Regions from separate parts of the Homo sapiens genome. Here region 1 is linked to region 2. The links come from fine-mapping of genetic effects on gene expression. A gene starts in region 2. The other region holds a variant in brackets. All regions are shown on one strand. Distances are between the middles of the regions. Region 1 overlaps AFF1 (ALF transcription elongation factor 1). Region 2 holds the start of AFF1 (ALF transcription elongation factor 1).

Region 1 (4,000 bases), 51 kb after region 2:
AACACGGTGAAACCCCGTCTCTACTAAAAATACAAAAAATTAGCCAGGCGTGATGGTGGGTGCCTATAGTCCCAGCTACTCGGGAGGCTGAGGCAGGAGAATGGTGTGAACCCGGGAGGTGGAGCTTGCAGTGAGCTGAGATGGCGCCACTGCACTCCAGCCTGGGTGACAGAGCGAGACTCCATCTCAAAAAAAAAGAAAAAGAAAAAAGAAATGCTTTGCCAATGTATCTAGTGTTTTAAATCATAGCCTACTAAATATTACTTTTTTCATTTCTTTATAAATGTGTAAGTGACAGAATTATTAGCATTTTGACAGAAATTTGTAAATGCTGTGGACAATCGTAATTTTTCCTGTTGATGATTAAGGTTGTTTGGCACAGTTTCGGCTTTCATAGTCGTTTCTATGGTCCTGCACTATTTTTCAAAGTGAGAACTGTATTTCAAGTGACCCTTTTTTTTTTCCAAGTGACATTTTTTTTTCTTTTTTTTTTTTTTGTGACTGAGTCTTGCTCTGTTGCCCAGGCTGAGGTGCAGTGGTGCAATCTCAGCTCACGCAACTTCTGTCTCCTGGATTCAAGCAATTCTGCTTCAGCCTCCCGAGTAGCTGAGACTAGGCGCACGTCACCATGTGCAGCTAATTTCTTTTGTGTTTTAGTAGAGACAGGGTTTCACCGTGTTGCCCAGGCTAGTCTCGAACTCTGAGCTCAGGCAGTCCGCCCGCCTCGGCCTCCCAAAGTGCTAGGATTACAGGCATGAGCCACTGTGCCTGGCCAAGATACATCTTAAGGATGAAAAAGAAAGAAAGCTGGATACAGTGGTTTAAGCTTGTTATCCCAGCACTTTGGGAGGCTGAGGTGGGAGGATTGCTTGTGTCCAGGAGTTTGACATCAGCCTGCGAAGCATAGCAATATCTTGTCTATATAAAAAATTTTAAAAAGTAGCTGGGCATATAGTCCCGCTACTTGGGATTCTGAGGCAGGAGGATTGCTTGAGCCCAGGAGGCTGAGGCTGCAGTGAGCTGTGATGATGCCACTGCATTCCAGCCTGGCAGCAGAATGAGACTCCATCTAAAAAAATAAAAATAAAAAAGACAAATCTTAAAGTGTTCTCAGCAAACATGTTTAGTAATGGTATTGGTATTATTATTGTACTTGTTAAGAAACAAATAGAGAAAAGAGATACAAACAAAATCAAACAGTTTAAAACACTGTAATCCTAAATTTAATAGAAAAGGGAAACTAACATGTTTTATAAATACAAATATTAATAGTAATATAATATATATAATTATGCATAATATATAAAAATATAATATATATAATATGTATTACTATATATATATATATATATATATATATATATATAAAATTATATTTTAGGCCGGGCAGAGGGGCTCACGCCTGTAATCCCAGCACTTTGGGAGGCCGAGGTGGGTGGATCACCTGAGGTCAGGAGTTTGAGACCAGCCTGGCCAACATGGCAAAACCCTGTCTCTACTAAAAATACAAAAATTAGCTGGGTGTGGTGGTGGGCGCCTGTAATCTCAGCTACTCAGGAGCCTGAGACAGGAGAATTGCTGGAACCTGGGAGGCAGAAGTTGCAGTGAGCCAAGATCATTGCACTCCAGCCCGGGCCGACAACAGCGAGACACTGTCTCAAAAAAAAAAAAAAAAAATGTAGCTCGGCGTGGTGGCAGGTGCCTGTAATCTCAGCTCCTCGGGAGGCTGAGGCAGGAGAATCGCTTGAACCCTTGAAGCGGAGGTTGCAGTGAGCCAAGATCACACCATTGCACTCCAGCCTGTGCGAAAAGAGCAAAACTCCATCTTAGTAAATAAATAAACAAAAATTAAAATGATACTAAATAGCAAAATCCAGTAGTTACTTTTGGAAAATGGCAGGGAACTAACTCATAATTAAAAAAATAATAATAAAAGAATCAAGCATTTATCCTAGTTTTTTGAATAAGCTGTAACTCAGTGTAACTAAATGATAGAGAAAAAGTTATTTACAGAAAAAAAAACTAATAAAAAGTGATAACATTATCATTTTGCATCCTCTCTCTGAATAAGCAAAGATTACCACTAATTGATAATACTGTTAGGTAAAGAGCTGGTGAGAAACTTTGTAATGGGATGTCTTAAAGTGACTAATTAAACACCTGAATCCTTTTTTTAAAATTTAATTCAATTCAATTTAATTTAATTTAATTTAATTTAATTTAATTTAATTTAAT[G/T]TAATTGGAGACCGAATCTCACTCTGTTGCCCAGGCTGGAGTGCAGTGGCATGATCTCAACTCACTGCAACCTCCACCTCCTGGGTTCAAGCGATCTTGTGCCTCGACCTCCCGAGTAGCTGGGAGTACAGGTGCCTGCCACCACGCCCAGCTAATTTTTGTATTTTTAGTGGAGACAGGGTTTCACCATGTTGGCCAGGCTGGTCTTGAACACCTGACCTCAGGTGATCCACCCGCCTTGGCCTCCCGTAGTGCTGTGTTACAGGCATGAGCCACCGTGCCTGGCCCTGAATCCATTATTTAAAGTTAAGATATTTTTAAAAAGAGTTAACTATTGTGCCTCTTCTCGTGATTTAATGAGGTATAGACTAACCACCTATGAAATAGTCTTTCCAAAAATTTAGACAGAAATCTGATCAAGCCAGTTTATAGAACATACATTCAACTGAGAAACATGTTAAAGGACTCTTCTTGGATGCTGTCAGCAAAATTCATAATGTTAGAACTCTGCAGAAAAAAAAAATTGTTTTTCCCCCAACAAATAAATCTCATAAAAAAGAATATAGATTATAAAGAAGCCTAAGAGACATATCAACCCTTAATAAAAGGATCCTGTTTGGCTCTGAACACACTAATGAAATTGGAAGAATAATTAGATATTTGATGCTAGTAAGGGAAATTTTATTAATATTACATTAATATTAAGTAATATTACATTAATATCAAGTAATAAACATTTTAGATAACATAATAGTATTGTGGTTATTATTATTATTTTTAAAATCATCATTTTTTAAAGAGAGGGTCTCTGTTGCCCAGGCTGGGGTGCAGTGGTATGAGCATGGCTTGCTGGGTACAAGTGATCCTCTGGCCTCACTGTCCTGAGTAGCTGGGACTACAGGTACACACCACCATGCCCAGCTAATTTCATATTATTTTTTGTAGAGATGGGGGTCTTGCTATGTTGCCCAGGCTGGTCTCAAACTGCTGGCATCAGGTGATTCTCTTGCCTTAAATCCTCATCTTCAAGCCTATTTAAAACTGAAAACCCTTATCCTGAATTTCTTATCAGTAAAATAAGGAAGAGGACTAAATGTCTTTGCTGCTTTCTCTGTGCTCTGCTCTAGCTGTTATATAATAGCCACTCCCTCATGATTTCCTTCTCAGAATCTTATTATTATAATGTATAAGCAATAATGTTGCTTGTGGATAAGACTTTATTTAATGCGTCTACCTCTGGGGGCAGGAACTTCAGGGCTCACGCTGGATGACCTGATTGACCCTAGGAAGTTGCTCTGTACCCTCTTCCAGACCATTTGTCCCCTCCTGAGCAGGATCTGAACATAACAGCTCTGGGCCTTGAGTCAGGGGTCATTTAGGGTCTTGATAACCAAGAATGTATAGACTGGGATGAGTTAGACTTGGTGGAGAGCCAACCCTCTGTGTGGAAGTCCTAATTCTTCAGTAGGTGATAACTGATTAATACCCATGTGGAAACCAGAAGCAATAACCACCAGAGAGTAGTAATGATTTGGCACACCACCCCCTTTTTGCAAGTTATTATTTGTGTTTTAAAAATCATTCAGTCTGGCCAGGCACAGTGGTCATGCCTGTAATCCCAGCACTTGGGAGGCCGAGGCGGGTGGATTACTTGAGGCCAGGAGTTTGAGACCAGCCTGGCCAACATAGTGAAACCCCATCTCTACTAAAAATACAAAAATTAGCTGGGCATGGTGGCACACGCTCGTAGTCCCAGGTACTCGGG
Region 2 (4,530 bases):
TGTTAAAAAAAAAAAAAAGCACCGATGTCAGAAACATGCTTCATCTTATTAGAAACATAATCTGAAATGTATGAGATTAGGTTGTCAAAATTAAGAAAGTGCTGGAATTTCATTGAGTGTGCTAAAAATGTAATTTAAGAATTCTTGTAAGGAAGATGATGGAGGAAAGTGTAGCTAACAAAGTTAAATATCTGCAACTCCATTACATAATTACTCTCCTTTTGTTTATGTCTGAAATTTAAAAAGTAGATATAAAAAATTTTTTAAAGTAGATATAGTGTAATCACTTTTTAAAATAGCCTTCTTATTGACTATTTATATAAGATGACCAGCAGAAGAGAGAGAAAGGCAACTTAAAAAATAATAATAACTCACTGGCATGGCTATCCTTTTTTATTCATTATCAGAAAATTAATTTGATTTAGTCTTTTTAAATAGCCAGTCACCATTCACGAAATAAATCAACAGAAGTGTGTACTGGAATTATTTACTTGCTTGTTTCTGCCACCACACTGGAATGTCATGAAAATAGGAGCTCTGTCTTTGTCATCAATATGGCTCGTCACCTAGCACATTGCCTTAAGAATATTGATATAAATGGAATGACTTACTCTCTGAACCAAAGCTACATCATCTTCAACAAAATTTTTGCAAAATTACAATCTTCAATTCCAAAGGCAGGAAAATAAAATGATCACACTTCCACTGTCAACATCATTTACTAAGTTGACCACAGTTTGAAGAGCCCTATAGGAGATACTATGGGATGACACAAAAAGAACACAAAAAAGGAAAACATTTTAGATAGAAGTGGTAAAAGTTTTCAGATTATAAAATATTACCATGCTAATATATATTTCACAATGAAATGTATTCATTATATAGCAAAAACGTTAAAATACTTGTTATTGATTAGAATAGAGATCAGTCTCTGTTAGAAACCTTTAAAAGGTGTACAAACACTTTGTAAGAGATGACTCCTGTCCCATCCTGCTCAGGGATGACCAGAACTTTCATCTTAGATAGATACACCACCAGGTTTCATCAGGGACACCTTAATTATTTTAGCTGTCTAGGTAAACCAATCTCCCGATGGGAGGATATGGAGTAGGGCGAAGAGTTATATTTTGGAAAACAATCCATGGGAAATTAAGTCAAGTAGCCAAAGGTTTAATTTGGAAATGCAAATATCCATCAATTAGGTTTTCAATTATGTGGACAATAAAAGAGTTGAGCAGAGCAGTAGAGACAAACAAAATTAAAAAGAGAAAAGGCAGAGAAGGCAGGGAGGGGCTTATTTTCACACATTATACCAATTTACATTACACATCATATTAAATTTAAGTAAGGCGCTTTTCTTCATCCAAATAATTTCACCCATTTTAAACCATAAAATACTGTCGGCGAAATCTCATCTGGGCCATTTGATGTAATCTTTCTGCGTCCCTTTCAGGAAGGAAGGTGCGACAACACAATGAAGACAGCCTGTTGCTTTCCTTGGTATGTTTACAGCAGGAATCGGGCAGCGACTTAACTAGACATAAGTTTCCCCTTCTTCCCATGGGTCTATTTGCCAAAGCCCCCTGCACCTATTAGAATTTTCTGAGGTTGGGCTGGTGGAGAGCAGAAACCCGGAGGCTAGATTCAGGAGACCTGGTTTCCCATGCCACTTAGTAGCCTGTGACATTGAGCACAATACTTACTTTTCGGCGCTTCCGTTTCATTATTTGGGAAATGGGAACAATATATCTGTTTTATAAGATTGTTGTGAAGATGAAACAGGCCTGTGTGTGAAAGGCCTTTTCTAAATTGTAAAGCGCTCCCCAGATGTTAGTTATTATCTCCTTTAAAGGGCACAGAATCTGTTTCAATATTATAGGAGGTTGCAAAAAGGCTCCTTGACACTTTTTGCTCAGAACTTGACCCTGAGCTTAATCTCGCCGTAAAGTGAAAGGGTTCTTGCGCCCCCACAGCAGCCCGGGGCAGGGTCACCCTCGCGACCGGGGCGGTCATTGCCGTATTCCGTCCTGAGCTGCCGCTCCCCCACGATCCTCCCACCAATCCCGGGAGGGCCGCGACGTCCCTTGCCGCTTGGGTGGCGCCAGCTAGAGGGCGCGGGCCGGGGCGGAACCCGGTACCGCAGCTCGGGAGGTGGGGGTGGGGGCGGGGCCTCGCGCGGAGGGCGTGGCCTCGGGGCGTCCCGGGCAGCCGGCGTGCTGAGCTTGCCAGCCAGCTAGCGAGCGACGGGCGCGCGCGGCCCCTGCGCACTCGGCCGCCGCCTGCGCGCGTTGCGGCCGCAGCTGCACCTTTGCCTCCGCGGTTCCGCAGCCGAGCCCCGGGAGGAGGCGCTCCCCTGCGTCGTCCGCACTTGCGCCCTTTCCCACCGCAACAGGTCAGGGGAGGGCGGAGGTGACGAGGGCGCCCGACCCGGGACTAGAGGACGGAAGGGTCTGGAAGGTGAGCGCAGCCCTGCGCCACCCAGGGCTGGGGGTCGATCCGCCCGGCCCCCGACGCCGCCGCCGCGGACTTCTCGGAAGCCGAGGCTCTCCCCGCCTCTCTGCCGGCTTCCCAGCACGCTGACTCAAGTCGCTGGCGTTCCCACTTTTCCGGTGGGAGCCCTCGGGGAGAACGGGCTAGGGCTCAGAGCTCTCACCGCCCTACTTGCGATCCCGCGGCAGGTAGCGCGTAGAAAAACAGGGGACGGGGACATGGGAAGAGACCCATGCTCCTCCCTCACGCGCAGCCCCCAAGTCAGACGTTTGCCTGTGCACCCCGCGTTTTGCGGAGAGCTGTCCCGTTGTTGGGACCTGCTACTTGAGTTGCGTAATGAGTCCCAGAAGTTTCTCGGGGGGAGGGGGCGGGGAAAAGTGGGGTTCTTCTCTCCTGCACCCCGGGACCCTTCCCTGTGCCTGTCGTGGAGAGAGATGAGGGCTTCCCGCCGCGTCTCGCTGAGAGCAGGAGGGAGGCGTGTGTCGGTGGTCCGTAGCCTCCGGGGAGGAGTTGGAGCCACCTTCTGAGACTTAACTTCAGGGACAGAGGGAGAGGCGTCTTTAGTATGGGACTGGTTAATTTCTCTTGATAATGCTTTTTTCCCTCGGGTGTCCCATCCTCTGTGGCCGTCGCAACCCCACCCTCCGACGGTGCGAGCGCCGGAGCCAGCGAATGAGAGGGGAGAGAAGGTGGAGAGTGTGAATCACACGTTACCTTAGTGTAATGGTAGTTGCATTAATGGAGCTGCGACGGGCCTGCGGGCGGTTCGATACCGTCCGGCTAGTTTTCTCTTCCCGGAGCTTCTCCACCACCAGCACCCGCAAATTGTTATGCAGATCATCCCGGGAAGGCACTTGGCTTTGGAGGTGGAGATGTGTCCGAATCTCCCTTGAACCAGTCTCTGTTAGGGGGAAAGGCCTTGCAGCCAAGTGATTTGTTTTAAGGGTGGAGCCGGAGATAATTTTAAACACCCTCCCCCTTGGTGCACGTTGCGGGGTGTGACTCACCACGGGGAAATCAGACTGATTTAAAACCTTCAGTGCAAACTTGTAAATTAAGGCGAAGACCCAGTGTTCCCTGGGACAGTTGCAAAGTGAGAAGAGCTCAGAAACTGAAGCACAGAAACGTTAGGTAGGAGTCTGAGAGGCGTGGAGAATTTTGCTTGTGCAAGATTATTTCAGAGCAAGGTCGTGCGGTGTGTGTAGAAGGTAGGTGGCCGTGGGTTACCTCTCTCAGACCTGCGTGGTGTTGGCCTCTGGGTGGGGATAAAAGTCACGAAAAAGACCTTTGGACCCAGAGTCTAGTTTTTTTTCTTTGGGGCCGAAGAATACCTAGGCATGGCCCTGTTTCAGTGTTTACTTCCTCTGTCTAATGTATTTCCTTAGCTCGCCTTTCATCTTTAGTGGGAAGGATTACTTGAGTGGATATTCCGGAAGTAGATTCACAGGAGAATGGAAAATTCTGGATGGTTTGCTTGCTTTAATTTCAAGGTGTTGTCTCTTGTGGATGTTGGGAAGTATTGTACTTGAATATTTGAAGATAAATATGGAGAAAAGCAGTGGTGAGAACTAAAGGAAAATGATCCAAGGGGAGATGAGAGAAAGCAACAAAATACATAAGTAGTACGTAAAACTAGAGAAACTCACTGGAATTAAGCCATTTTTATGGAGAGAAAGAACCAAGGAAATAATTTGGGATAGATTTGGTCACTTTGAGACAAATAGAGATTGAAGAGTGGGACTTTTGGGGAAAATGAGTTTAGATATTGGAGACTTTTCTTTTTTCAAATATAACTTACAAGGATGTTGAGGCTGGAGATGTGAGACTTGCAGGTATGTTGCTGTGAATTCTTTGCTTTTCACCTGCAAGAAAATGAACTGTTAAATATTAATCTGCCTTATTCACTGTAACAATTGAATTTGTGGCTTTGGCATTTGCTTAACTCTTCAACTTTGCAAAACTATAATTTTGAAGAATCACAGTGTGTTAAATTAGAATACAAAGATCATTTAGAGATTGAAAATTTATGACAAAAGTCCA

What was found. PIP is the estimated chance that this variant, and not a neighbour inherited with it, causes the effect. A credible set is the group of variants that fine-mapping cannot tell apart.
Region 1: its variant is the best candidate, but not a certain one, in a credible set for the expression of AFF1 in subcutaneous fat (TwinsUK, PIP 0.60).

Annotation. Positions count from the first base shown.
Region 1 is chr4:86,983,849-86,987,848 of GRCh38, forward strand. The region is part of intron 2 of AFF1 (ALF transcription elongation factor 1); the gene reads left to right. Among named protein-coding and RNA genes, the nearest start is that of AFF1, 51 kb to the left of the region's middle. The variant G/T (reference allele first, on the strand shown) is at 2,236.
Region 2 is chr4:86,932,784-86,937,313 of GRCh38, forward strand. AFF1 (ALF transcription elongation factor 1) reads left to right here and starts at 2,228. Exons shown (of 21, transcript NM_001166693.3): 1 at 2,228-2,457. It overlaps AFF1-AS1 (AFF1 antisense RNA 1), which reads right to left and starts at 2,067. Exons shown (of 3, transcript NR_038841.1): 1 at 1,704-2,067; 2 at 612-759. It also overlaps a transcript of C4orf36 not described here. RefSeq lists silencers at 1,933-2,682, 3,153-3,291 and enhancers at 2,604-3,145, 3,146-3,687, 3,543-3,662.